4 linked regions of the Homo sapiens genome follow. The protein of the gene in region 2 purifies or fractionates together with the protein of the main gene of each other region. This does not show direct contact. Each region holds a gene or a part of one and is shown on either strand. Other genes may lie near its edges.

Region 1 (7,026 bases), on a different chromosome or scaffold from region 2:
ATTTTACCACAATAAAAAATTGCATCATGGCCCTCGTAGTGGCTCACGCCTATAATCACAGCACTTTGGGAGGCCGAGGTGAGAGGATTGCTTCAGTCCAGGAGTTCAAGACCAGCCTGGGCAACATGGTGAAACCCCATCTCTACAAAATAAAAAAATCAGCCTGTGGTGCATGCCTGTGATCCCAGCTACTTGTGGGGCTAAGGTGGGAGGATCACTTGAGCCCAGGAGGTTGAGACTGCAATGAGCTGTGACTGGCTCTAACGTAGTATCATGCCATTAGGGAGGGCAGGTGAGGGGTAATAGCAGGACACTCCCACTACACACTTCCTTTTGTTTCTTTTGAATTTTACACCATGTGCATGATTATCTATTACAAAAAACAAATCATAAAGGGGGAAAAAAAGCATGCAGATGATAATACCTTCATATGAAAATGCTGGAAAGAGTCTTAAATATAATCTAGTTCAATGTTTTCACTTTATAGATGAGGAACTTCAACAGCACACAGATTATATTATGTTCTTGCCCAAATTCAAACATCCAATAAGGCAAAGACAGCGATAAAAGCAGATGTAGATAAAGGAGAGTGTATTTTTTTTTTTTTGAGACGAAGTCTCGCTCTTGTTCCCCAGGCTGGAGTGCAATGGCACGATCTCTGCTCATCACAACCTCCGCCTCCCGGGTTCAAGCGATTCTCCTGCCTCAGCCTCCTGAGTAGCTGGGATTACAGGCATGTGCCACCATGCTCAGCTAATTTTTGTATTTTTAGTAGAGGGGGAGTTTCTCCATGTTGGTCAGGCTGGTCTCAAACTCCTGACCTCAGGTGATCTGTCCATTTTGGCCTCCTAAAGTGCTGGGATTATAGGCGTGAGCCACCGCACCCGGCCGAGGACAGTATATTTCCTAAGAAAACAAAAGTAACCACAAAACAAAAGAAACAATTTTTATAGAATTTTTTTTTTTTTTGAGACAAGTCTCGCTCCGTCGCCCAGGCTGGAGTGCAGTGGCGTGATCTCGGCTCACTGCAAGCTCCGCCTCCCGGGTTCACACCATTCTCCTGCCTCAGCCTCCAGAGTAGCTGGGACTTACAGGCACCCACCACCATGCCGGGCTAATTTTTTGTATTTTTAGTAGAGACAGGGTTTCACCATGTTAGCCATGTTATTTATTTTATTAGGTGGGTATTTTCTGTAGAAAGAATTTGCAAGTAAAATGGTGGACTTACAGAATCTTTGTTTCAAAGGTTGGTTACGCTAAACTCTGAAGCAACTCTCCAACTATCAGCACTGGAAGTAGTCAAGTTTATCTGGCTAGATTTTTCTTTTATTAGTAAAATGTCAGAAGAACTGGACTTCAGAAGCATTACAATCCTAAATATAGAATGTCTTCTAAAGGTTAAAACATTCTGGAATTTAACTTTTTATTTACATGTTATGTTGATCAGTTTTCTTCTCTCATAGAAGTAAAACTATATTCTGTTTCCTGATGTAAAACCAGTGTTTATGAAATATGAATAAGTATTTAGGAAAAAAGAAGCCCTGGGATAATGAGTATCTGTTCTTTTCTTTTTTTTTTTTTGATTCCCCAGACACACAGTGGATCTGTATGGCGTGTGACATGGGCCCATCCTGAATTTGGCCCATTAAATTTATTTAAATTTAAATAAAATTTAAAGAATTTTATTAACCCTTGGCCAGGCGTGGTGGCTCACGCCTGTAATCCCAGCACTTTGGGAGGCCGACAGGCAGATCACGAGGTCAGGAGATCGAGACCATCCTGGCTAGCACAGTGAAACCCCGTCTCTACTAAAAATGCAAAAAATTAGATGGGCGTGGTGGCGGGCGCCTGTAGTCCCAGCTACTCAGGAGGCTGAGGTAGGAGAATGGCGTGAACCCGGGAGGCGGAGCTTGCAGTGAGCCAAGATTGTGCCACTGCACTCCAGCCTGGGTGACACAGTGAGACTCCGTCTAAAAAAAAAAAAAAGAATTTTATTAACCCTTAAGAGTTTAAAGTTAAAAAAAAAAAAGAATTTTAGAGTTAGGCACAGTGGCTCATGCCTATAATCTCAGCAACTCAGGAGGCTGAGGTGGGGCCAGGAGTTTGAGACTGCAGTGAGCCAGAATACTTTAAAATCATATATTACTATCATAAAATATACTAATAGGTAAAATCAAATACAATGCAAATATTCTGGATTCATCATAAAAGTTATAAACAATGCAGTGATGCTCCTAAGTATTGCTTCAGACCCAAGTTAAAATGAAATAAAAAAGGAAGAAAAAAACATGGAAGAAAGAACTTTAGAACTGGTAAAACTAGAGGGGAGTGGTGATATTTTACCAATTATCTGAGGTAGCCTTCGGATGAATGCTCCTTGGCTGCTCATGTCTTCCCGGTCCCCAGAATACTAATAAATGTCTCACCCAGTGGCTCTGTCCTCGCAGTTTATCATTTGATTCTCCTACTATTTCTTCCCATACAGCAGCTGTTCGGTCAAAAGAACAGGAAGCCAAAACCTGCCCAAATTCAGGATGGGCCCATGTCACACGCCATACAGATCCACTATGTGTCTGGGGAATCAAAAAAAAAAAAGAAAAGAACAGATACTCATTATCCCAGGGCTTCTTTTTTCCTAAATACTTATTCATATTTCATAAACACTGGTTTTACATCAGGAAACAGAATATAGTTTTACTTCTATGAGAGAAGAAAACTGATCAACATAACATGTAAATAAAAAGTTAAATTCCAGAATGTTTTAACCTTTAGAAGACATTCTATATTTAGGATTGTAATGCTTCTGAAGTCCAGTTCTTCTGACATTTTACTAATAAAAGAAAAATCTAGCCAGATAAACTTGACTACTTCCAGTGCTGATAGTTGGAGAGTTGCTTCAGAGTTTAGCGTAACCAACCTTTGAAACAAAGATTCTGTAAGTCCACCATTTTACTTGCAAATTCTTTCTACAGAAAATACCCACCTAATAAAATAAATAACATTAGATTTATTTGCTCCAAAATCCATACAGACAGAAAGTAGATTAGTGGTTACCAGCGGCTGGGAGCAGAGTAAACAAGAAGTGACTGCTAAATGAGCACAGGGTTTCCTTTAGAGGTGGTAAACAATGTTCTGAAATTAGAAGTGGTGGTGGTTGCCAATTAAATGAATATACTTAAAATCACTAAATTGTACACTTTAAATGGGTGCACATTATGATATGTAAATTATAGCTCAATCAAAAAAATACTTTTTTTTCATTTGATTCAACCAGGCATAGTGGCTCACGCCTGTCTTCTCAGCCCTTTAGGGGGCTGAGGTGGGCAGACTGCTTGAGCCCAGGGGTTCAAGACCAGTCTGGGCAATATGGCAAAATGCCATCACTACAAAAAATACAAAAAATTAGTCAGGTGTGGTGGTATGCACTTACGGTCCCAGCTGCTTGGGAGGCTGAGGTGGGAGGATCACTTCAGCCTGGAAGGTTGAGGCTGCAGTAAGCCAAGATTGTGCCACTGCACTCCAGCCTGGGTGACAGAGCAAGAACTTGTCTCCAAAAAAAAATTATTTGCTTCAAAAGTCTAACAATATATAGAGATTATAGCCATAGAATGCTTAAATGATTTTAACTGACAATACAGTCTATCGATAACAGACTATTGTAGGAAGAGCAAATATGGGGAAGCCCAAATCCTTACACCCCTCCTGTTGGCCAAGGGGTGGGAGGGGAGGTGGCTGGAGAAGGGATACAAAGGTCTTAAAGAATTTCACCATCAAAAGAATTTGCTAGGTGCTTCTCAGGGAAAATACTGTATAATAACAAATAACATTCAGAAAATGTGTTTCACACTGTATAGCTAACATTTTTTACATTCAACAACATAAAAATAGTTTAACCAATAACTTCTACATGGTAACAATGTCACCAACTAAAGGTACATTTTGCACCCTTTTTTTTTAACCTTGTTTTGTCCAGTCTTTTCTGTATCATCTTTAATTCTTACTTATACAGGGCTATAAAATTAAAAATGCACACTAAGGCAGATAAGTTTTATTAGATTTACAGTAAAATGCAATCTAAAGAATAAGGTTTGCACAAAGATGCTCATCACAATAAAATGGAAACTGAAATATCCACTAGTTAAGCAAAATGGTATATTTATTGGCTGTTAATAAAAAGCCTTTAAAGATATAGAAAAGTACATATGAAATATATTAGGCTTAAAAGCAAGAGATGGGGTTTCCTTTTGGAATAATAAAAATGTTTTAGAACTAGAAAAAGGTGGTAGTTACACAACACTGTAAATGAAGTAAATGCCAATTAATTGTTTACTCTGAAATTATTAATTTTATAAGTTAACCTCACCTTAAAAGGGGGGGGGACCTTGGATAGACCTTTCACAAAAGAAGATACATGAATGGTAAATAAGCATATGAAAAAATAATCAACATGAGGTATTAAGGAAATACAAATCAAAATCCAATGATTTTTGTGGTCACTTCTCAACTACTAAAATGGCTATAATAAAAAAGACAGATATTATCGAGTGTAGGTGAGGATGTAGAGAAACTGGAACCTCACACATGGCTGGTGGGCACAGCCACTTTGGAAGAGTTTCGCAGTTTCTTAGAAAGCTAAGTGCATATAGCCCATCAATTCCACTCCTACGCATCTATCCAAAAGAAATGAAAATATATGTCTACACAGACTTACATGGCACGTTCTTAACATTACTCATAACAGCCAAAAACAACAACTCAAATGTCCGTCAACTGGTGAACAGACAAACAAAACGTGGCAATATACATACAACGGACTACTCAGTATCAAAGGAACAAATTGACACATGACACAATATGGATGAACCTCAAAACATGCAAAGGGAAAGTGGCCAGACACAAAGGACTATGTATTTCAAAATTCCATTTCTATGAAATTTCTAGAAAGGATAAACCAGGCCAGGCATGGTGGCTCAAGCCTGTAATCCCAGCACTTTGGAAGGCCAAGGCGGGCGGATCACTTGAGGTCAGGAGTTCGAGACCAGCCTGGTCAACATAGTGAAACCCTGTCTCTACCAAAACTACAAAAATTAGCCGGGTGTGGTGGCATGCGCCTGTAATCCCAGCTACTCAGGAGGCTGAGGCAGGAGAATCGCTTGAACCCAGGAGGCAGAGGTTGCAACGAGCCAACATCGCACCACTGCACTCCAGCCTGGGCGACAGAGCAAGACGCCAGCTCAAAAAAAAAAAAAAAGAAAAGAAGAGAAGAGAGGGTGGGAGGGGAGGGGAGAGGGAGGGCAGAGGAGAGAAGAAACCTATGGAGACAGAAAATGGATCAGTGGTTGCCTGGGGCTTGGAGTGGGAATAGGATACAAAGGAATTTCTGAGTTTGAGAGAAAAGTTCTAAAACTGGATTACAGTGATGACTACACAACTATGTAAGTTTACTAAAACTCACTGAACTGTACATTTAAAATGGATGACTTTTAAGGTATGAAAATTTCTACTTGGCCGGGCACAGTGGCTCATGCCTATAAACCCAGCACTTTGGGAGGCCGAGGGAGGATCACCTGAGGTCAGGAGTTTGAGACCAGCCTGGCCAACATGGCGAAACCCCATCTCTGCTAAAAACACAAAAATTAGCCGGGCATCGTGGTGCACGCCTACAGTCCCAGCTACTTGGGAGGCTGAGGCAGAAGAATCACTTGAACCCAACAGGCGGAGGTTGCAGTGAGCCAAGATCACGCCACTGCACTCCCACCTGGGCAAGAGAGCAAGACTCTCCGTCTCAAAAAAAAAAAAAAAAGAAAATTTCTACTTGAGTAAAGGTTTTGTTTTTTTTTTTTAAGAGAAAACTATGTATGAAACATCACAACAATTAAAATATGTAAAGGCAAAAGGAATATTCTGAATTACTAAGATAATTATGTTAGAATGCTACAGAATTACAGATTTTCTTACTCTCAAATTCTGAGAAACACAGTTGTTACTTTAATAGCGAAAAACAGTAAAATGTCTTCCCAGGAAAAGAACTACTGTATAAATGTTATTTTCTCAAAACAATTCATAGATAACTATAAAATAAACAGTAAATATTTCTGTATTTTTAATAAATGTAAAAATAAATACTAACCTTCCAGCTAGCAGTACAATGCCAATCACCACTTTCACTTTTATCCCAGACCTATAAGAAAATAAAAGGCAGATATTTTATACAAAAATTCCTACAAATTGATACAAAAACTATAAGACTGAATCAGTGTACAAGGAAAGCGGTGAACATATAGTTAACAAAAGAACACAATCAGCAAGTAAACATTCATTCATTCAATTAAGTATTTATTGAGAGGCTGGGTGCGATGGCTCATGCCTGTAATCCCAGCACTTTGGGAGGCCAAGGCAAACGGATCACCTGAGGTCAGGAGTTCGAGACCAGCCTAGACAACGTGGTGAAACCCCGTCTCTACTAAAAATACAAAAATTAGCCAGGCATGGTGCCGCATGCCTATAGTCCCAGCTACTAGGGAGGCTGAGGCAAGACAATCGTTTGAACCCCAGAGGCGGAGGTCGCAGTGAGCTGACATCACGCCACTGCACTCCAGCCTGGGAGACAAAGCAAGACTCCGTCTCAAAAAATTTACATTGAGAACCTTGAATGTGTCAAGCACTGGGCCAAGCACCAAGGGATTCAGGAAGCTGAGCTCTATTAGGTAACAGAGACAATTAGTTACAGTCACTACGCTTGGAGGCCATTTTAAACAGCAAAATCACCAACAGAAAGAACAAATAATCATTGCACTAAATAAATCATGAAAAACACCTGCTTACAGTATGAGCCAAAATAGAGTATCGCCTGGTTTCACCTCAATGGGAAACGTCTGTCCTGAGACTCAAACTTTTTCACCACTCCTCACACATGCACAAATGACTGCAAAACCAGTGTGACTTTTGGGGTACAAGTAAATTTCAGAGTAGACAAATTCAAAAAATACAGAATCTACAAACAACAGGCTCAACTGTACATGTAAC
Region 2 (7,026 bases):
TAACGCCTACCTGACTGGACCAATCTAGGACCCCTTTCTTGATGTTTGTTTCCTGTGTGTCATTGACCCGATTTGCTAGACAACTTCTCTCTGGCTGTGCAGACACTGTTAGCCAATTTTACGTATTAAATGCTGAGCAAATTTAGTAGCCCTCGCCAGAGGGGGGAAAGAACTTATTGAAAGCATGTTTTTATTTTTTATTTTTGGAAAAAGACATTCAAAATTTACTTTCCAACAGACAGCATCATCGGGTATAACTACAAGGGTTTCTCCTTAGATCATACATTCACAAAGCATTATTAGCTCAACAGTGAGAAAATGTGTTCTCTAAAGATGTCCCCTTGACAATGTAAACGAGTGCTACTGTGTTCACTTACAACTCGAGAAAAAAACGTACAACCTGGCAAAACCGTATATATATACAGCTGTCTCTAGGGGTGCATACAAATATATATATATGTTTTGGATCAGGTCAGGTGCAATGACTAAGAGATAGAACTTTGAGTAACAGTCTTGATCGACAGTAAGGTCCTTCACACAGAAGTCAGGTTCTTCCTTTCTCCTTCCTCCTTAAGTCGATAAAGAAAGATTATATATTGTAGATATTACAGGTACAAAAGGAGATTTTTAAAAAAGGAATCACAAAAACATCTTGAATGTCCAGCTGTTCCTGCCAATACATCAATTCTTAGTTTTAAGACAGAGTCTAGGATTAATTCAGCAGTCATAAAATTAAAAAGAGAGACTGTGGTACAAAAAATTTAAAATAAATGAGGAAGTAGGGCATGGTGGCGTGGGCCTGTAGTCCCAGCTATTTGAGAGACTGACGTGGGAGGATTGCTTGAGCCCAGGAGTTGGAAGCCGGGATGGGCAACATAGTGAGACCCCCATCTCTAAATTAAATAAATAAATGAGGTAGGGAAATTAAAACTTTCACACCCAGGACATGCCTGTTCCAACTTTGTAGCCTTCATGCAATGCTCAAGGAAAAAGTCTTCATAATTCCTTGGCATAAGTCACACCAAGAAAAGTTTTTAAAACTTAGTATGCGAACCTGTGATAGGCAACACGCCCTTCCCTGAGTTTCCTCTCTAGAATGAAAACCCAGTTCTTCAAGAGTAGGCACTGAGGAACTAAATTAAGTTGCCTGAAATTTCCCACTCAGGTGCCCACCACTTCTGGTGTTCAGGAAGAGAGGCATTTGGGAATTGTGAGGAGCACATTGGCACTCTTGGGGCTCCAACTGAACTGTATTTAAATAAGCAGCAACACACACATTGACTCCCTAAGGACTCAAAGGAGTCCAATTGGCTGGGTGCAGTGGCTTATGCCTGTAATCCCAGCACTTTGAGAGATCGAGGCGAGTGGATCACTTGAGGTCAAGAGTTTGAGACCAGCCTGGCCAACATGGCAAAACCCCGTCTCTACTAAAAATACAAAAATTAGCCAGGCGTGGTGGCAGGCGCCTGTAATCCCAGCTACTAGGGAGGCTGAGGCAGGAGAATCGCTTGAACCCAGGAGGCGGAGGTTTGCAGTGAGATATCATGCCACTGCACTCCGGCCTGGGAGACAGAGCAAGACCATGTCTCAAAAATAAATAAATAAATAAAAATTAAAAACAAGTCCATTTGAGGGCATCCTAATTAAGAGTCTAAGGTTGAAGGAATTTTGTAATTCCACAACCTTAGTGGGTTTCTGTGCTGTGTTTTTTAAAGGACATTCAAAAAACAAGGCACAACAAAAGACAAATACAGAGTGGGGGACATGCAAAACAAGTTCCTAAATAGATGACAGACCTTGTCCATTTACCCACATACGGTTACGATGGAAGCATACAATATTCCTCCTCCTCATTTAGGCTAAGTAGTTTTCCCACTGTTGTTCAACAAATAGGTAACAGTCTTTGGAAATAGTCACCCTGGGTTGTACAAAGTTTCTATATATACAGTTTGTTGCAAGTAACAAAACTACTTTTAAGACTCACTTATTTCCCCTCCCCACCCCAAATCTAGTCTGTATTTGTTTTGGTATGAATTTTTTGTTTTTATTTTTTGCAAAGTAGCATAGCAATAATCATGATTACAGGACTGCATGAGCTGTAAAAATCATTTGCATATTAGTAAGAATAAAGAAAACAGGAAGACAAGATGAATTCTTTAGAGAAATAAAACAAAAAAAGCACATAATATAGAACTGATCAAATTCTATGATCCCATCTCAGGCTTCCCAAGCCAGCTGTCTCTAGGGGTGGCATCTATAAATACATATTCAAGAAATTCCTTAGATGATTAGCAAGTTTGGGGAATTACTGTTTTCTATTAGAATCACATTCTTTTAGTTGTCTCCTGTTTATAAGCCCTACACTCTAGCCTATTTGGTGTATTTGTTGGTTCATAATAATGCCCAGCATTTATCATTTCTTGCTCATACTGATTTCTTAATCTATAGAGCCTCATCCTTCTTGTGTCACTCTTTGCCTTTGCAAATTCAGTGCATTACTCAAACCCCAAACCAATACTACTTCCTGAGAGTCTTTTCAGCTGGAGAGAGGTTCTTCCTGCTCAGACTACTTGTAATTCTTTCTTTTTTTGGAGACAGTGTCTCGCTCTGTCCCCAAGGCTGGAGTGCAGTGGCGTGATCTCGGCTCACTGCAACCTCTGCCTTCCAGGTTCAAGAGATTCTCATGCCTCAGCCTCCCCTGAGTAGCTGGGATTACAGGCACCTGCCACCATGCCCGGCTAATTTTTGTATTTTTTTAGTAGAGACAGGGTTTCACCATGTTGGCCAGGCTGGTCTCAAACTCCTGACGACAGGTGATCCACCTGCCTCGGCCTCCCGAAGTGCTGGGGTTACAGACGTGAGCCACTGCACCCAGCCACTACTTGTATTTTTAAATGACACCTTTTAAATGTACTTATGGTATTTCCCCTATTAGAAGAGCGGGATCTGTAATCTCCAATATATTCAGTGCTTACTGTGTGCCAGGTACTACGCTAAGTCTTTATATGCTCTTATTTTGATAGGAAGTTTGCTAAATGAAAGTTAAACTAGAAATGTCTTCAAAATAACTAAAATAATAATAGCATGTTATGTTAGAAAAATTCTTGTTATAGTCATCTTCTTAATTTTAATATTCAAAAATACTAAATTTTATGATAAATAAAAAATTACGTACCTGGCTTAAAAATAAATCTACTTTCCATCATCTTTATGATTTTAAAATATCAGAATGCTTATGATTACAGAAAAAACTAGAACAGAAAATTTAATTTTCTTATTACATGAAAAAGAGACAACCCTGGAATTTGTAAAAACAGAAAATTTTAATTTTTATATAGTTTTATTAACAAGCACACAGAGAAACGCTGATATCCCTACATGTTGAAAGTGTCACGATAATATTCTGAAAAGTACAAAATTCAAATGTCTAAATTTTACATGGTAATGCAAAAGAAAAAATTACTAATAACAAGTATATTTTATTAAAAACTTCATTTATCATGAAAATTAGTGAGATTACAAAGATTAAACTATAACTGAATTTCATACCCTAATGGGTCAAGTCCCTGGTCTAGGAGCATTAGAGAGGACTCTCTGAGCTTCTGCAGCAACTTCCTTAGCTCTTCCTTAGAAAATACCTGATTTTTAAAAAGAGAAATAAGAATGAGAACAAAGACAAGTAGACAAGTATGAACTTAGTTACCTAATCGATCTGATTAGCTTCATATAAGAAGAAATGCCTCTTTAAGATTTATGTAGCCAGAGCCTAGTAAATTAGAGTGGTTCAGGAATTTCAAGGTGAATTCTCAGAGTCAGTCTATATATTTCTAACTGCTTACAAATATACACACATTTTGGGAAAAAAGTACAAACATTAAAACATTAAAACTGGACTATTACTTTAAGAAAATCCAAGAGCAATTACAAATGTAAACACATCTTCACAAAATTAATATTACTACAGAGCATATCAAATCATTAAAATTTAAAACTACAAGGCTCTAGAACTTACCAGGTACAGTTTGTGGCGCTCAGAGGATACCATATCTGCTAACTGTAGGCATTCCTGATACTGACCAGTACTGTGCAATATCGTATGAAGCAGAAAACACAACATTGGCAGACAAAGCTTTCTCAGTAAGACCATTTGATGTGTTCTTTCATGGTCTTCTTTGGCATCCTACAAACAGACATCAATAAATCATTTTAACAATTTAAGCTAAAGATCCTTACAAAAAGAAAAGCCAGGTACTGAATCAAACCCAGAATGTAATTGGTAGACAAGATTTAACAGCAAAAAAGTATGAAGATGAACAACGTAGACTACAGAGAGGTATGACAGTGAAAATAAAATGCTTCTGCATTTGTATTTCTAATAAACTTACTATGTCCTGAATAAAAACATGCATAAAAAGAATGAGTTGGAAACTGAATATCATTAGAGCAAAAATCAGAACAGAAAACAATCACCACTCCTTTGGATGTTTATACATATAAATAAAGATAGCTCTAAGGAGGCCTGAGAGGACACAACAGACTGACAGCAATGACTGTTGCTGGGAAAAAGACGATGTGGGGAGGGGCACACAGGGAGGGTCAACTTCATTGCAGACTACTTTGCTTATACACATGGAAAATGGAATTTATAATTTCTTTATATAATTTTTAAAAACAGAAAAACAGAACCTATAGATTTGAATAATACAATTAATGAGTCAGAACAGATATATAAGGAAAACAAGCAGAAAAAACAATTGGCATTCCTTTATACATACATGGATCTTTCTTAAAATCGATGTGAACAGTAAAAGTACAGAAAAAAGAGTAAACCTCTTATGCCCACTACATTTACTTACAAAAAATTTGAAAATTAAAATAATTAGAAAGTAACCAACCACATAATTTCTTTTTTTTTTCTTTTCTTTTTTAACCTTTTTCTTCTTTTCTGAGACAGCATCTCACTCTGTCGCCCAGTCTGGAATGCAGTGGTACAATCATGGCTCTCTGAAGCCTTGATCTCCGGGCTCAAGCAATCCTCCTACCTCAGCCTCCCAAGTAGCTAAGAACCACAGGCATGTGCCACCATGCCCGGCTAATTTTTCTATTTAAAAAAAAAAATAATTTTATTATTTGTAGAGATGAGGTCTCCCTATGTTGCCCAAGCTAGTATCGAACTCTTGGGCTCAAGTGATCCTCCTGCCTCAGCCTCCCAAAGTGCTGGGATTACAGAAATTACACACTACAATTTCTGAAATAATCTTAAAAATAGGAAGGAAATCAATAGCACTAATAGTGTAGAAAAAAAAAACAGGACAAGCTAAAATAATAACTGCTCCTTTGAAAAGCCTAATGGAATACCTAAAAGTATCTTCATGTGAGAGGCTATATTAAATTGCTAAAACATTTTTCAAATGGACATGTAAGTGGAGGGGTTAATCAACAACAAAGTATAATCTGGTAATTATACCAAGGAGTAATTGTACTAATTTGGGCTAATCTAGGTCAGGTTTCCAAACATAGGAAAAATTACTATCAATATTTTGGTCTTGTTTGAAGCATAAATACATAAAAGCAAATATTAAAGTGCTTCTTTACAAGGGAAGCACCTTTATTTCTTTTCTCAAATAGATACTTGCTACCTTCAGAGGTGGATTTAAAATGCTTCAAGGTTTTACTTGTAATTCATATTAGTGATCCCAACCTAGAACCCAGTAAGAATAAGAGAACTGCTTCTTTCTGGACCTTTCCATTTGTGCTCCAATGTAGTCTTTCTGTCTATGTTAAAGAGGCCGGGTGCCCCTGGCTTCTGACTCCTTGTTGCCCGAAAAGCAGCAGGTTACTTTCTTATCTCACAGGATGGACCCAGACTTGCTTTTACTAAATCCTTTTGCTGCCATAATATCAGAGTGTGCTGCAGACAATCTCTTCTGCTAATTATAATGAATTCCGATACTAGCGGGCGGGCTGCCAGCAACTATCCAGGGTAATGGCTGACAGACCCAGCAAATTGCTACAAGGAAAAGCAAATAAACAGCTCTGCTACAACTGAAGACATTTTTCTCATCTGAATGAACAAAAGCTTTGAAATAGCCGGTAAATATGTAAAACAGACGGATTATTTCCACTAGGGATATTTCCACTTTTTTTTTTTTTTTTGAGACGGAGTCTCGCTCTGTCGCCCAGGCTGGAGTGCAGTGGCGCGATCTCAGCTCACTGCAAGCTCCGCCTGCCGGGTTCACGCGATTCTCCTGCCTCAGCCTCCCGAGTAGCTGGGACTACAGGTGCCCGCCACCACACCCGGCTAATTTTTTGTATTTTTAGTAGAGATGGGGTTTTACTGTGTTAGCCAGGATGGTCTCGATCTCCTGACCTCGTGATCTGCCCACCTCAGCCTCCCAAAGTGCTGGGATTACAGGCGTGAGCCACCGCGCCCCCCCATGTAGTGCCTTACATGTGAGAAAAACTCATTACCTAATATGTGTTGATAGCAAGAGTTGATTGGAACTGATATTACAGCTATTCCTAATCTGAAGACAGTACATTCACCTCAGTAATGCAGTATCATTCATTTACTAAGTACCACTGAAAGCCTCCCATGTGCTCAGCATTATTTTAAGTGCCAGAGTCAAAGAAATAAAGAAAACAAGGTTACTCCCTTCATGAAGGTTATATTCTAATGAGGGTAGACATACAAAAAGCAAATAAATTAATATGTTTTATATCAGATTGTGCTAAGTGCTATGAAGAAAACTAATGTAGGATATGGAGATTAAAAGGGACAGGTGTGTGTGTGTGTATACACATGCATACATGCTATTTTAAATAGGGTGGTTGGGTTGGGGAGAGGTTCTTGAAAGAGATGACATTTGAGCAGCTGCTGAAAGAAGTACAAAGTCATCCATGCACCTATCTTGGCGAAGGAGCATTCTAGGCAGAGGGGAACCAATGAAGAGGCCCAGAATGCCAGGATATAGTGATGGGAGAGCAGTAGGACACAAGATTAGGGGGTTAGTTTAAAAAAAAAAG
Region 3 (7,227 bases), on a different chromosome or scaffold from region 2:
GACACCTAGAACCAAAGATATCACTGGTAAATTAACTCATGGCAGTTAGAATACAACCATCTCAAGTTCTTGACTGCATTTGTTTGTTCACTCACTCATTCATTCATTCATTCAGTAAGCATTCATTCTAAGTACCTTCTTTCTGCCAAGCACTGTGCTAGGAACTGGATATACAGACACAAATAAGAGGAACTTTTTGCCCTTGAGAAGCTCGCGAATAATGCTAGTGTCGCAAGATAAATTATTTAATGGTGGTTTGTGTGTCCTGTAGGAGCCTGAGGGGCTGGGGTGGTAGACACGAATTGAGCCCTAGATGATGGGTAGGAATTTGCAGGTGGCACAGGGGAAAATACCAGTCCAAGCAGCCAAGCAGAGGGAATACACGAGTAGAGACAAAGAGGTCTGAGAGAGCCTGATGTGTGTGGGGAAACGGCAAGCAGTCCTGGCTACCCTTAAGGTTGAGGAGAGACCCCAAGGGAGCTACAGCTGGTGTTCCTTTCCTGGATGACAGAGCCTCTGATGTTCCAGGCAGTTTATGCATAACGGGGTTATTACTTCAGACTGGGAGACTTGATTCGAGTGTTTCCTGAGGCTGCTCCCTGGTCCGTCACGTAGTGGGATCCAGAGTTGAACAGTTTGTAGGGCTGGAACATGGTGTCATGGTCATCTCCCTCCTATCTATTCTTTGAGGTCCAGCTCAAAAAGGGCCATCCATCACCTTTCTTGAAGATTCTCAGACCCTCAAATGGCTGGACTCTCTTGCATATCTTCAGCAAGGAACACATACAACACTTTATGCTGTTTCTTCTCCCCACTAGAAGGTGAGCTCCTTGGAGCCATGGTCTGAGCCATCTGCAGTTTCAAATCCCCTCAAATCATCCAGCACAGTGCTTTGCAAATAGAAGGAACTCAGCGACTATTTGCTGAATGAATAAGTAAATGAACAAAAGCTGTTATTTTTTTTCTTTGCTCAACCACTCTTCTCTTAAATTCTTGGGATAGAAAAGAGGACTTAAAAGAAGTTTCAGTGTGGAACAGACATTTCTTACCATTTTCCCCATTTCATCTTTTCCAGCACAAGCCCTGTAGGTATAAAGTTTGACTTGTGATTTCAGAAAGGCAGACAGTGGAAGAGGATGGCTGCAAAGCAGTTCAAGAGGTACACACCAAGTAAGCACAGGTTCTCTCATCAGATTCTAGACTCTCTAAAAACCAGGTCCCCGAAGTCTGCAAAGGCAAGTAAGGACAATAAGGAGTTTCCTCCATGTGCCGAGCTGTATAGGTTACAAAGTGCACAGGAAGGCGGGGAGGGCAGGGTACCAAGGGCACAGTCAATCAGAGACCTGCGACAGACTAAGGAAATGAAGAAGCCCAGAGAAGAGAAAGCACTTGCCAAAGTCACAGAGCTAGTTCAAGGCAGACCTGGGAAAAGAGCCCCATCCCCTAACCTTCTAATGCTGAGTCCACAAAACTTCACTCCACCAGGCTGCCTGTCTAGAATGTAAAGCAGTTGTTACACTGAGTTCTGTAAAGCTGCGGTTAAGTAGGTTCACGAAGAAAGTTTACTGAGAGGTAGTTTCAACCAGGTTACCAAAGGACCTTAGAAATAATCAGCATTTAATTCTAACCACTCTCACCCACCAGTCAGGGTTGATGAACCACACTTCTGAATGAGAGAGAGAGAGAGAGAGAGAGAGAGAGAGAGAAGGCGGGGGGGGGGGGGGGGGAGGAAAGAGGGAGGGGGAGAGAAAAGGACGGAAGGAAGGAGGAAGGGCGGGAGAGAAAGGGAGAGGGAGAGGAAGGGGGGAGGAAGAGGGAGCGGGGAGAGAGAGAGAGAAGAGAGGGAGGGGGAGAGAGAGAAAGGGAGAGGGAGAGGAAGGGGGGAGGGAGAGGGAGTGGGGAGAGAGGGAGGGTGGGGAGAGAGAGAGAGAGAGAGAGAACTTCTTAGAGTACTTCTTCCCAGGGACCTGGTATTATCTGGTCCCTGTTAACACCTGCACTCAAAATAATTCACCTCTTTGAGATCAGATAATGAGTTAAAAATTCATTTAGGATGAGCTGAATGTCAGAGCATAAAAGCCTCAACTCTAACCTGCAGTGGAAGAGCCAGAGGTGAGTGATTTACACCTAACCCTCTGCAGAACAAGAACACAGTGTTCTGATTTCTAGGTTCCTGCAGGTTCCCTCAAACCTGCTGCTGAGACACACCCATGTTTCTAAAAGAATGCATGTACTAGATATTCCAGGCTCAGCCCAGATACTTCCATTCTTTAGTTCTCCTTCAGTCATTCATTCACTCAAGGAGTAAGTGTGGAGTGAATGTACACTGCAGATGCCACAGAGACTTAAAAAACCCTGAGCCCCTGCCTTCGGAGGGTCGTTCAGGCCATCTTTACGTTTCCCGAGGTGCCCATCCTACCTGGGGGCCCTACCCCGAGCAACAGTTCAATCATCTCTGCTGGGAGCTGCAGTAGGCGGCAGAAAGGAATGGTTAGGAGGGTTCAAATCTCGGCTCTACTACCACTTAAGCAGCTGTGCAAGAGGCTCCACGTCTCCGAACCTCAAGTGTCCTCATCTGTAAAGTGTTGAGAAGAATAGCACCTTCTTCACAAGGCTGTTAGCAGGCGGAGATTACGAACAATGCTGAGGGCTCGGTATACAGTAGCTCCTCTGCTGTTCCTCGTTTTGTTTTCAATTGTTGACCGAAAAGAAGGAAGGGAGACTGGCAGGAGACGCAGGAGCGGCGCGCCCCGCAAAGTCAGGGAGGTTCCTCGGCCTCACCTCTGGACTCCCCTCGGAATGGTCCGCAAGGACGGGGCCAGAGCCCCCCAAATCTCTAAGCGGTGGAGGGGAGCTGAACGGCTCCAGCTTGGGATTTGGGACTCAGGACGGCCGAGGAACCCGTGAAGGCCGCGACCGTGGCCTTCACCCTGCTAGGCCTCCTCAGTACCAACACTCACCATGATTGCGGCGGTGGCTGCTCCAGGTCTCGGACGTGGCAGCTCCCGGCGGCGCCTCGGAACAGCTCACTTCCGGCGCCGGGCCCGACGGGCCGTGGCGTAGGAGCCTCCGGGCAGCAACGCGCTCGGCTCGCACAGCAGTTCCGCGCCTTCCAGAGGGCGCGCCCCGCCCTCCCGTGGCCCAGCCCCTATCCTCCAGTGACGTGCGAGACCAGAGGGCTGGGGCTCTGGTTGCCGCAGTTACCCTGACCCGGAGGGCTTTGGAATCTGAAGCTCTGGTGGGTCTACTCTCCCGACCAAGTCTGCCCTTTTCCTGAGATCCATAAATGAAAGAAAGGATTAATATAACTATCGGCCGGGCGCGGTGGCTCATGCCTGTAATCCCAGAACTTTGGGAGGCTGAGCTGGGGGGTGGATCACCTGAGGTCAGGAGTTCGAGACCAGCCTGGCCAACATGGTGAAACCCCGTCTCTACCAAAAATACAAAAATTAGCCGGGCATAGTGGCGCGCGCCTGTAGTCCCAGCTACAGGCTGAGGCAGGAGAATCGCTGGAACCCGGGAGGTGGAGGTTACAGTGAGCCGTGACTGCACCATTGCACTCCAGCCTGGGCAACAGAGAGACACTCTTGTAAAAAAGAAAAAAATCTATCTATCTATCTATCTATCTATCTATCTATCTATCTATCTATCTATCATCTATCTATCTGCAGCTTCACCCGCCTCACTACGGCTCTGGGTGCGACTGGTCTTATGATGAATGTTGTAGGATGAGTGACATCTTAGGAGTAAGTAGACTGTCCTAGTGCTTCCTTGTTGTAGTCTCCCTCTCAGTACCCAAGGACTGGGACCAGGGCAGAGGAGGCCAGGGAATGCCCCTCGCCAGAGGCTGGGACCTCTGGCCCTGCCATCCCTAACCCCTATATAGGACTGCCCCTTCCAAACCGATCCCCTGGGGTCCTGAGTAAGTCCCATCAAGGAGACCCCCCTAGGCAATGAAGGATCTCAGCCAGGCTCCTGCAGCTAGAGCCCCAGACCTAATCCTCAGGGTCCCCAACCCCAGGTCTCTGGCTTCACAAGGTAGGGCAGCTGAAGGCTCCCCACAAGCGCAGTGAGAATGCCACACTGGAGGACAGAGCCTGGGCTCCCCGCCTCAGCCACATATGGTCTAGCCCTGGGCCCCTTGTGACATTAAGGAGGCAGATGAGCTGGGGGAGGCCTTGGCTCCCCTTGGGCAAGTCACAGTCCTTCAGTTTCCTCTGCTGAAACTGGGAGTAAGGACCCTAGCTGGAGATGGTCACTGCTTGAAGGAAGATGTTAAGGCTCAGAGAATGTGATAGACCCAAACTGTCAAGGAGCTTTGGAGGGGAGGCCAGGGGAGTAGGGTGTTAGAATTAAGGGCCAGGCCTCTGGGCAACTCTTCTACCCCACTGCAGCTTTCAAGATTTTTTATTGCCCTCTAGTGGAGAAATTGTTGCAGGGGTGTGAGGGGGTGGTGGTTAGGTTAGAGCAGGGAACAAAGGCAGGTTTCAGGGGATCTCTTGGATCTCCTGTTGTTTTTTTTGTTTTTTTTTTTTTGGAGATGGACTCTAGCTCTGTTGCCCAGGCTGGAGTCCAGTGGTATGATCTTGGCTCACTGCAACCTCTACCTCCCGGGTTCAAGCAATTCTCCTGCCTCAGCCTCCTGAGTAGCTGGGATTACAGGCATGTGCCACCATGCCTGGCTAATTTTTGTAGTTTTAGTAGAGATGGGGTTTCACCATGTTGGCCAGGCTGGTCTCAAACTCCTGACCTCTGGTGATCTACTCTCCTCGGCCTCTCAAAGTGCTGGGATTACAGGTGTGAGCCGCTGCGTCCTGCCAGATCTCCTGTTCTTCAAGGAACAGGCTCTGGCCTTGGCTCTATAGCTGCACCACTGACTTTCTAGGTGATAAGGCCAAGTCACTTTTCTCTGAGCCTCACTTTCTTTGAGTGGAAAATGAGGACAAGGGCATATTAGATGTAAATATAATGCATCAGGCATAATTGTGATTAAAAGAATTTCCTTGTGTAGACACTGATGTTGAAGAGATTGGGGATTTGTGACAAGCAACAGAACTGTATCTTATTCATTAAGGTATTTGCTGTAAGGTATTTGGCCCATAAGGCGCTGTAATATGGCAGTTTAGAGTACAGATGCTGGCATCAAGACTGCTAGGTATCAGTGCTGGATCTCCTGCTTACCAGGTGGGCATGCTCTTCACCTCTTTGAGATGCTGTCTCCTGCTCTTTTGAGTGAGAATTATAATAATACCTCCTCTGAAGGTTGATATTGGGATTAAATGAACCCTTGGATATGAAACTGCGTATGGAAGTCAGATGGGCCTATGGCGCTTGATTTGGGGATCAGTTCAACCTAAGAAGAGCTGTGTGAGTGTGTGAGTGTGTGTGTAACTCTCAACCCTTGGGCCAACCTTAGGGATTACTTGTTGGTCTGGGCATATTCTCTTTCTCTGCCAATGTTCAGCAGAGGTTTGTGAAGTCCAGACTCCTCAGGTGCCAGGCTTCCCTCTGCCTTACCCCTCTCCCCAGTAGGGGGGTGCCACCTAGATCCAGTGTCTGTATTCCGCATCTCCTCCCTCTGGTTAATCCAGACCCCAAATCAGGCCAACTTTCCCTGATTTTTGCCCCCCCACCCCTTGCCCCCAAACCTCCTCCGCTTCGTCCTGAGGCCCCGTTCCCCAGTCTTCTTCTATGAGATGGTCAACCATTCCTCATAGGTTAATGGCTCATGGCAGGGTGAGCCTGTCTCCCTCAAATGGTGGGTGTTCAAAAGGTGTGATCTAGTGGAAGGAGAGAGACTGCCCGCTGAGCTGTGGGCCCTTGGGCAAAGTGCATTTCCCTCCCAGGGACTCAGTTTCCCCCTGAGTTCAACTCCACGAAGGGCGGGGACCCAGCTGTCCTTCAGAAAAAGGCCTTGTGATGTGTACCGTGTCTGCATTTCCACGTGTGCATTTATTGTTATTGCTCAGTATAGTGTTGAAAAGGCAGACAAATCCCATTAATTACAAAGAGCACAAGCCAAAGATACAGAGAAATAAAGAGTGTACAATAAGAGCACAGTCACTTCCCAGCCCCGATTGTCCCAGAGCCCCCCAGAGCCCGGGCAGCTTACGGAAGCTGGAGGCGGCACCATTCCCTCGCTACTCTATTATAAAATATGTGCACACAAGAGTTAGCAAAGTGTGGTGACCCCCGAGAGGAAAGGTCCAGGAGGGAGAGCACCACAGGCATTACAAAACAGACTTAGGGGGCTGAGAAGGGCAGTCCCAAAGCAGCCTCCAATATTGTTTTCAGTGGAGGGGGTGATGGCTGCTGCCTGGGGCTGGGGACCCTCCTCCCCCACCTGGGTTGGTATGATCTCTACATTAAAATCAGGAGAGCTTGGTTTGGAACTTTGAAAAGGCCTGGGGACTTCCTGCTATTGTCTGACTTCCCTCCTGGCTCTGGAAGGCCTAAAAGCCTTCAAGAAACGCTCTTCCCTACAAGAGCCTCTAATGGTGGGATTTTGGACACAATGGCAGGAGAGAGATTTGGGTGGGAGGCTTGTCAGAATGCACCAGGTTGGCAGCCTCCTGCAGGTAGCGCAAGAGTGGGCTAGGGGAGTGAGGGTTCCGAGAAGGCCCAGGCAAGAACTGCCTGCATCCCAAAGGTACTGGAGACTCCAAATTAAAGAGCAAGAAACTATCCCCCCAAAACAAAATGAAACAAAAACAACAAAAAACCAGTTCAGGAAAGGGAGATAGGAATAAAGGTTTCTCCATGATGAGAATTAGAAGTGCAGACAACTGGGCCACACATTCTTTCCCAGCTCCAGGCCTAGGAGAGACTCCTCTTTCTCGTCTGGACCAGGGACAGATGGCGGGTCCACCCCAACACAACCAAGGTGGGTGACTTTGGTTCCCAAGCTGAGATTGAGTGGGGGCCTGGTGACCTCTCATGACAACTCCTGGGCTTAGGGGGCAGGTGAAATGATGGGAGGAACAGCAGGCTTCTCTCAAGATCAGGATGCCCTTTTTGTCCCTCTTTACAGAACATAGTCTATTTCACAGCCCTGAGTGGACAGTAATTACAATGGGGGGAAGATGATGGCACAGGGAATGACAGAGCCCAGAATTTGGGGGTGGGAATGGGACAGGGGGTGGAGGACTGGGCACAATTTAAAGTTTATGTGGAAGAATAGATGTGAGAGAATAACTAGGAAATTTTGTAAAAGAAGAGTGAAGGGAC
Region 4 (7,026 bases), about 33 Mb from region 2:
TTTCTAATAGAAGAAACAAATATACCAAAAAAGCGTCAGCATTATCACTCATCATGGAAATGTCATTGTGGCATCAACCAGAATGGCTAAAATTAAAAAGACAGGCTGGGCACAGTGGCTCATGCCTGTAATCCTAACACTTTGGGAGGTCAAGGTAGGTGAATTGCTCGAGCCTGGGTGCTCGAGACCAGCCTGGGCAACATGGCGAAACCCCATCACTGCAAAAAATACAAAAAATTAGCCGGGAGTGGTGGTGCATGCCTGTAGTTCCAGCTACTTGGGAGGCGGAGGTGAGAGGGAGGGTTGAGGCTGAGCCAAGGGAGGTTGAGGCTGCAGTAAGCTGTGATTATGGGTCTGGCTGTCAGCCTGGGAGATAGAGTGAGACCATGTACCAAAAAAATAAAAAAAAAAAAAAGAAAGATTGACAATAGCAAATATTGGAGAATAGGCCAGGTATGGTGGCTCATGCTGTCATCCCAGCACTTTGGGAGGCCAAGGCACATGGATTGCCTGAGCTCAGGAGTTTGAGGCCAGCCTGGGCAACAGGCAAATCCCTGTCCCTACAAAAAATACCAAAATTAGCCAGGCATGATGATGGGCGCCTATAGTCCCAGCTACTCAGGAGGAGGCTGAGGTGGGAAGACGGCTTGAGCCTGGGAAGCAGAGATTGCAGTGAGTGGAGATGGTGCCACTGTACTCCAGCCTGGGCAATAGAGCCAGACCTTGTCTCAAAATGAATGAATGAGTGTTGGAGAGTAGGAAGACCACCCTTAGATTATTGGGGAAAAGACAAAATGGTAGAACCACTTTAGAAACTGGCATTTTCTTAAAATGTTAAACATACATCTACCCTGTGACTCAGCAATTCTACTCCTAAATTAAATCATATAACCACCCAAAGCAGTATTCAGCAAAAAATAATAACTAAAGCCTAGAAACTGTATTGGTACCTATTTACAGAAGAATGAATAAACAGACTATGGTCTATTGATACACTGTAATGGAGTACTACTTAAAAAGCACTGGTATACATAACAATGTGGAAAAATTGCAAAAACAAGCCAGACACAAAAGACATTCTGTATGATCCCACTTATATGAAGTTCTAGAATAGGCAAAACTGATTTCTGGTAATAGAAATCAGATCAATGGTTGCTTCTGCAGGGAGTGGGGTACAATGATTAACTGGGAAGAAGTATGACGAAACTTTCTTGGGTGACAGAAACAGTGCATGAATAGGGTGTGGGTTGTACAAATATACGTATTTGTCAAAACTGATCAAACTATACCCTTAAGAGCTGAGAATTTCAGAGTATCTAAATTATCCCTTAATTTAAAAAAAACGAAGTTAGCTTAATAGTTGATAACTTTTAGTTCCTAAGTACTGTCTACTAAAAGAAGACACATCTTTTAGATTTGACATTTGTAGAAGGCAAGGCTAGTGTTTTGTAACAGATCTTAAATAACCTAACATATTCTTGCCCCTGTAAAGAGGGCTTCAGCAGGCATTGCTAGGATTTTTTTCTCAGAAAACCATCATTCCTTTTAAACACTTTCACAAAAACTGAAGTCCAGGACCAGAACTTACAGATTTATATACTGTTGGACAAAAAAATGTGATCTTGGCCTATGGGTGGGGAAGGAAAGCTCATTAATGTCTCAACCAAATTTAGTTATTTTAAGTTATACTTTCAATAAAGTTGTAAATTCAGTGAACAATCTGTAAAGACCTTGATTCAGATGAATCTCACGTAAAAGGTTTTGTAGTTTGGCTCAAACACATGGTCAAGGCATCATAGTCATGGCTGTATATTTAAATCACAAATTCAGATGATAAGCCTAAATTATTAAGTAGTAGCAAATATCAAAATATCTAATATCTTGGATTGTGGAAAATGGAAATTGAGAAAAAAGTATCTATGATCAGACTTCCAATCATGTAACACAATCAAAGTACATTAGTAAGGAATGCATTTGGTACTGTTAAACTTACTTGATTACTGGAGGCAATGAATCAAGTCTAGTCTCTGGGCTCCAAGCTATGCCATCAACCCTGACTCCATGGTGAAATGTTCGAAGTGTTTTATACTGAATGCCTTCAACGTCTGCTTCTTCTTCCTAAGCATACACAGTAAATGTTTTAATAAGTAATGAGAACAAACAATATAATATTCTGTATTTCATTATAATGAATTTATCAGGAGGTTATGCTTATGCTTTTGAAAAGTTCAAAAGCAAATTACATATTAAGATTTAACTAGTTCATTGAATTAAAAAAAAATCCAAAGTTGTCTAAGCCTCACAAAATAACTCTCTAAGGCAACTAGAAACAAATGGTAAACATGTTCTACTTTATCTTAGGAGGCATTTCATAATAAGTTCAATGAAAATGGACTGCTTGGTCAGGCGTGTTGGCTCACGTCTATAATCCCAACACTTTGCGGGGCTGAGGTGGAAGGATTGCTTGAGCTCTGGAGTCTGAGACCAGACTGGGCAACACAGTGAGACCTGTGTCTACGTTATAAAAAAAGAAAACAAAGAAAATGGAATGCTCTAAAGAATCAAGATATTCTAGGTAAATGAATTACCAGAACCGGATTATCTACTGACAATATTAAAAAAATACACTGTACATTCTCACTACATGGAAAATACTTTGGGACCTTATAAAGACCTCAAAGTCTTTATAATCAGTGTCAATGATTTTCATGTAGTGTTACATGTGGCATTATATGTGTGTAAGATGCTACAAATAATTCATCTGAACTATTATTGTTTATGAATAGTGAATATGTAATAAATAATCTGGCTAATTTAGTTTTAGATATTTGATTCTGGGAATAAATGCTTAATAAAGTTGGCTTATTTATCCAGTTCAGCCCTACTAAAATGATTTCAGTTTATCCTCACGGGAAGGTGAGAAAAAAAATCAACTTTAAAAGTCAAGCCATCTGTCGCTGGCAATGGAGACAATAACCTGAAAAGTTCTCCCATTACAACATTGCAAAAATTCAAATACAGACAAGCAAACGACTACCAAGGTATGCAGCTGTTATAAGGGTATCTGCCTACATGCAATGATTTAAAGCTTCAGTTTGCAAGAGAGAAGAGACAAATCCTAGTGCCTGCACAAGGAAGGATGCCAGATCAGAGATTTCTGCATAGATCCAGGGCCCGATTAAGGGGAAAGCAGGAAAAAACAGACAAACAAAAAGAAAATCCTGCCATGCAAAATACCTACCATGAGTAAGGGAAGGATACTTAGGGGGCTTCAAAAGAATTGCTAATGTTCCTTTTCTTAAACTAAGCAGCAGGTATACAGGGATCCATCTTATTACTCTTTATGCCTTTATGGATAACACATTTTTTATAAGCATTAAAATACTGCTCAGCACCATAGGAAAGGTAAAAAAGAAAATGATAAAAAAATTTTGCAATTTTAAAAATAAGTAAATCATCCTTCTGTTATTTAAATCAATACCTGAACTGGGTTTGAGACTAAAGAAGGCCAAATTTTCGCGACAAATTTGTCCAAGGAATCTTCTGTGCTAACTACAGTTTTCTTTATAAAAGTGTATGGTATTATAAAGTATCAGGGAAAAAATCCAGCAGGTGAAACTTGATATTTAATGAAATACGTATGTCTATATTGATAGGAATTACTTGAAGGCCTGATCTAAGCATTCCATTCACCCAGAATCTAAATGCAAAGTTTTATAATGTATACTCGAATGAAATCCAAGTAGATATACTGATTTTTCCAGGATAGCCTATGGGATCCCAGTAAAGTCATTTCACAAATATACTACACATCTTTCTCTGCATAATTCAGATACCCTTTGAAAATAACTTCAAATTTCAGGTGAACTTAAGAGTTAACAGCAAAAAGTTTTTCCACAAATGAAAGAAATACACTTATCAAGGAAAGAAAAACACTGTCAAATTTTACTACTTCGTAATTTGTGTGTATAATAGTTGTATAGCTAACAGCCAGATATGCCAAGACAGCAGCCACTAAACAATTTTAAAATAAGTTTAGGAGCCTAATCATAGCTGACTTCACAGTTTGGATTACATCTATTTTTCCAAACTTGACAAATCAGTCTCCTAAAAATGAAGTTTTTGCATGTAAATACACATCATCTTGCTACTGTAACAATATTGTTGACAATCAAGTCCTTTAATTTGTTACCCAAATCACATATGGAATTACTGGGTGGTCATGGGGATAAAGAAATCTCAGGGACTGTACAGCCTGGGCTTTTTGTTTTACCAGTGAAACCTGTTTTCCTGGCAGCACTGTTTGCCACTGAGCCAACTAAAAGGCCCGTGTGTGTGTGTGGTATAGGCAGAGACAAATGCTATTTTGGATTTAGTTTGGGGTATAAGCAGAATTGTATAGGCAGGAAATTAAGATACTTTGGAAAACTTGCTATAATACAAATGATTATACAAGGTTTCGGCATATTTGAGGTTGGGGCAAAGCCAGGTTGATGGAAGGGCTATTATAAGGGTTTGAAACTGGCAGGCCCTCCCACCACACCCATTTAAGGCCAAATACAAATTTCAGTTAGTCAAGACTGTGAAGTTTCTCTAGTTCAATTCTTTCCCCCCAATGCTTGAATCCCTAGGAGAGCATCTGAAAAAAAGAGTTTACACAACCCCTCTCTGAACACTTCCAGTGACAGGGAACTAGCTATTTCTTTGGGAAGTTTATTCAATTGGGGGATAGCTCTAATTATTAGAAGAGTTCTTAACGTTAAGCCAAAATCTGTTTCCATGTAAATTCTACTCATTATTCCACGTTCCATCTCTGGAACCACACCAAATCAGTCTAACTTAATGATGACAAATATCTGGCCATAGCTGATCTCCTCTAGGTGAAGACACACTAAGCAGCAGATTCAGCCTCAGCCTGAAAGCATTATAAGCAACAACTCTGTCCATTCAAATAGAGATGACAAATAACATAAAATCCATTTACCATTGAGTCTAATACCTCTTTCACAGTTTTAAACATTTAGATACTACCCTGAAATTTGTATTAAAATACATTATCTTCTCTGAATCATAATATACTGCTGAGAACTACAGAGTATTATTATTATATTAAAGATTACTGTCGATTTACAGAGGAAGATGCAGAGAGAACTGTGCTGTCTGATATGGTGGCCACTAGCCACACAGGACCTTATGAAGCACGTGAAATGTGGCTAGTTCTATTTGATATGTGTACACTTTAAAAAGTGTAAAATACATACCAGATTTCTAAGTCTATTCAAGGGGTCTTCATTAGTGAATTGAGGCCTCTAGTAGAACTTGGATGAGAACATTGATTTAGGCAAGCATATATGTTCATGCTCCTCTGCCCTTTAACAAAGGTTTTTATAGCAGTTTTCTTATTGCACTGCTTTATATGTAAATATTTCCTTAAGGATATGGTCCTTGCTTTTTTCATGTCTTGGCACCCAGTATGCACTTAATGAAAATTTGACAAATACACGACACCAGTTAACAGTACTATCATTCAGAAGCTCATATGTCCATCATAATCAAAGGGACAACATGAGATTCTGAAAAATGCTTTATTGAAATTCAAATTCACTATATCTACAACGTTTTCTAAACAGCCTTAAAATAAGGATTATCTTTCTGTCAGGAATGTGAAAATCTTTCCACTTAATTTACCTTTACTTAGTTTTCTCTCAAGACAAGAGGCATGAAACTGGGTGCAATGGAACTTGAAGGTTCTAGGACAACAGAATAGTAATGTTTAACAGTGTTTAGCTAGATAAAAAATAACTCCACAGAAAAGCAATAATTTATTTTGAAATGGACTTACTTAATTGTATTTCCAATGTCTGATGCAGAATATAATTTGTGTTTACTATTGTCCAAATTAATAAAAATCTAATTTTTTCCTTAGTAATTTGGGCACGAGACCTACATTGCTAATCTCACAGGTATGAGGGTAACTGAGACAATACATGTGACCATAAACTATAACAGAACACAAATGTTTATACTAGTTCTTTTTTCTCATGTTAGTCATTTTCCTTCTTTCTCCCAACTTCTCCCTCTCTCATCTTTGCCTCTCTTTTCCTAATTTGTTCTCCACTGACTTTCTCCCTCAACATTTCTTAATCATAAATGAGATAAACATTTTTCAGTGTTTGCGAATACAATCCTATGTTGTTATTAATTTTAAAAGTAATGAAGTAAAAATTAGTTTTACCTGTAGGAGGCTGCTTTACTCTTTTGTACATTGGTGGCTTGCATTAGAGAAATGGTTTTTCCTCAGTCTTTTTCAAGTACGTAACATTGTCTTAATCATATGACTTTTTATGATCCTAAACCATGTCCATGTAAGTCAGGCTAGGGTCATATTTAGTCTAAAAGCTATTAATTTCTACTCCCACCCAAACAGACAGTACGAAATAGGCTAGGAGCTGTCATATTCTACTCAGACAGCAACAAACTGAAACTTTCAATTCACACTTCCTCTTAAATATGACTATATTCCAATTTGTAAAGCTTTATATATTCATTGTGCTATAAAATGCCAAATTGCATTTTTGATGTCAGAATACTGTAAGATACAGAATTGCCGCTGGGCATGGTGGCTCACGCCTGTAATCCCAGTACTTTGGGAGGCTGAGGCGGGCGGATCACGAGGTCAGTTCAAGACCAGCCTGACCAACATGGTGAAACCCCGTCTCTACTAAAGATACAAAAAAGTTAGCTGGGCATGGTGGCACGTGCCTGTAATTCGAGCTACTCAGGAGGCTGAGGCAGGATAATTGCTTGACCTCGGGAGGCAGAGGTTGCAGTGAGCAGAGATCGCACCACTGCACTCCAGCCTGGATGACAGAGCGAGACTCCGTCTCAAAACAAAACAAAACAAAAACAGAATTGCCTTCTCAGTAAAGGAGGAAATAACATTTATAATAACTATCACTTTAGTGATAGTTATTTTAAATCTTTGAAAATTGGACACTTCCAAATTACCGTGCTCATTATAATTTG

The links.
Region 1: the proteins of NUP107 (region 2) and SEH1L purify together in Homo sapiens (affinity purification with mass spectrometry; 5 studies listed by BioGRID and IntAct, with this or other methods). This does not show direct contact.
Region 3: the proteins of NUP107 (region 2) and SEC13 purify together in Homo sapiens (affinity purification with mass spectrometry; 10 studies listed by BioGRID and IntAct, with this or other methods). This does not show direct contact.
Region 4: the proteins of NUP107 (region 2) and NUP37 purify together in Homo sapiens (affinity purification with mass spectrometry; 7 studies listed by BioGRID and IntAct, with this or other methods). This does not show direct contact.

What each region holds. Positions count from the first base shown.
Region 1 is NC_000018.10:12,951,010-12,958,035, reverse strand, and holds part of SEH1L (nucleoporin SEH1), read right to left. Parts: intron 6,182-7,026; coding exon 6,131-6,181; intron 2,574-6,130; coding exon 2,427-2,573; intron 1-2,426. UniProt on the Homo sapiens protein: Component of the Nup107-160 subcomplex of the nuclear pore complex (NPC). The Nup107-160 subcomplex is required for the assembly of a functional NPC.
Region 2 is NC_000012.12:68,738,967-68,745,992, reverse strand, and holds the end of NUP107 (nuclear pore complex protein Nup107), read right to left. Parts: intron 4,181-7,026; coding exon 4,013-4,180; intron 3,639-4,012; coding exon 3,531-3,638; 3' UTR 184-3,530; downstream 1-183. UniProt on the Homo sapiens protein: Plays a role in the nuclear pore complex (NPC) assembly and/or maintenance. Required for the assembly of peripheral proteins into the NPC. May anchor NUP62 to the NPC. Involved in nephrogenesis.
Region 3 is NC_000003.12:10,318,090-10,325,316, forward strand, and holds the start of SEC13 (protein SEC13 homolog), read right to left. Parts: upstream 3,024-7,227; 5' UTR 2,964-3,023; coding exon 2,961-2,963; intron 2,953-2,960; exon of another isoform or gene 2,782-2,952; intron 2,576-2,781; exon of another isoform or gene 2,420-2,575; intron 1,228-2,419; exon of another isoform or gene 1,191-1,227; coding exon of another isoform or gene 1,050-1,190; intron 6-1,049; coding exon 1-5. UniProt on the Homo sapiens protein: Functions as a component of the nuclear pore complex (NPC) and the COPII coat. At the endoplasmic reticulum, SEC13 is involved in the biogenesis of COPII-coated vesicles.
Region 4 is NC_000012.12:102,110,115-102,117,140, forward strand, and holds part of NUP37 (nucleoporin Nup37), read right to left. Parts: intron 2,119-7,026; coding exon 1,994-2,118; intron 1-1,993. UniProt on the Homo sapiens protein: Component of the Nup107-160 subcomplex of the nuclear pore complex (NPC). The Nup107-160 subcomplex is required for the assembly of a functional NPC.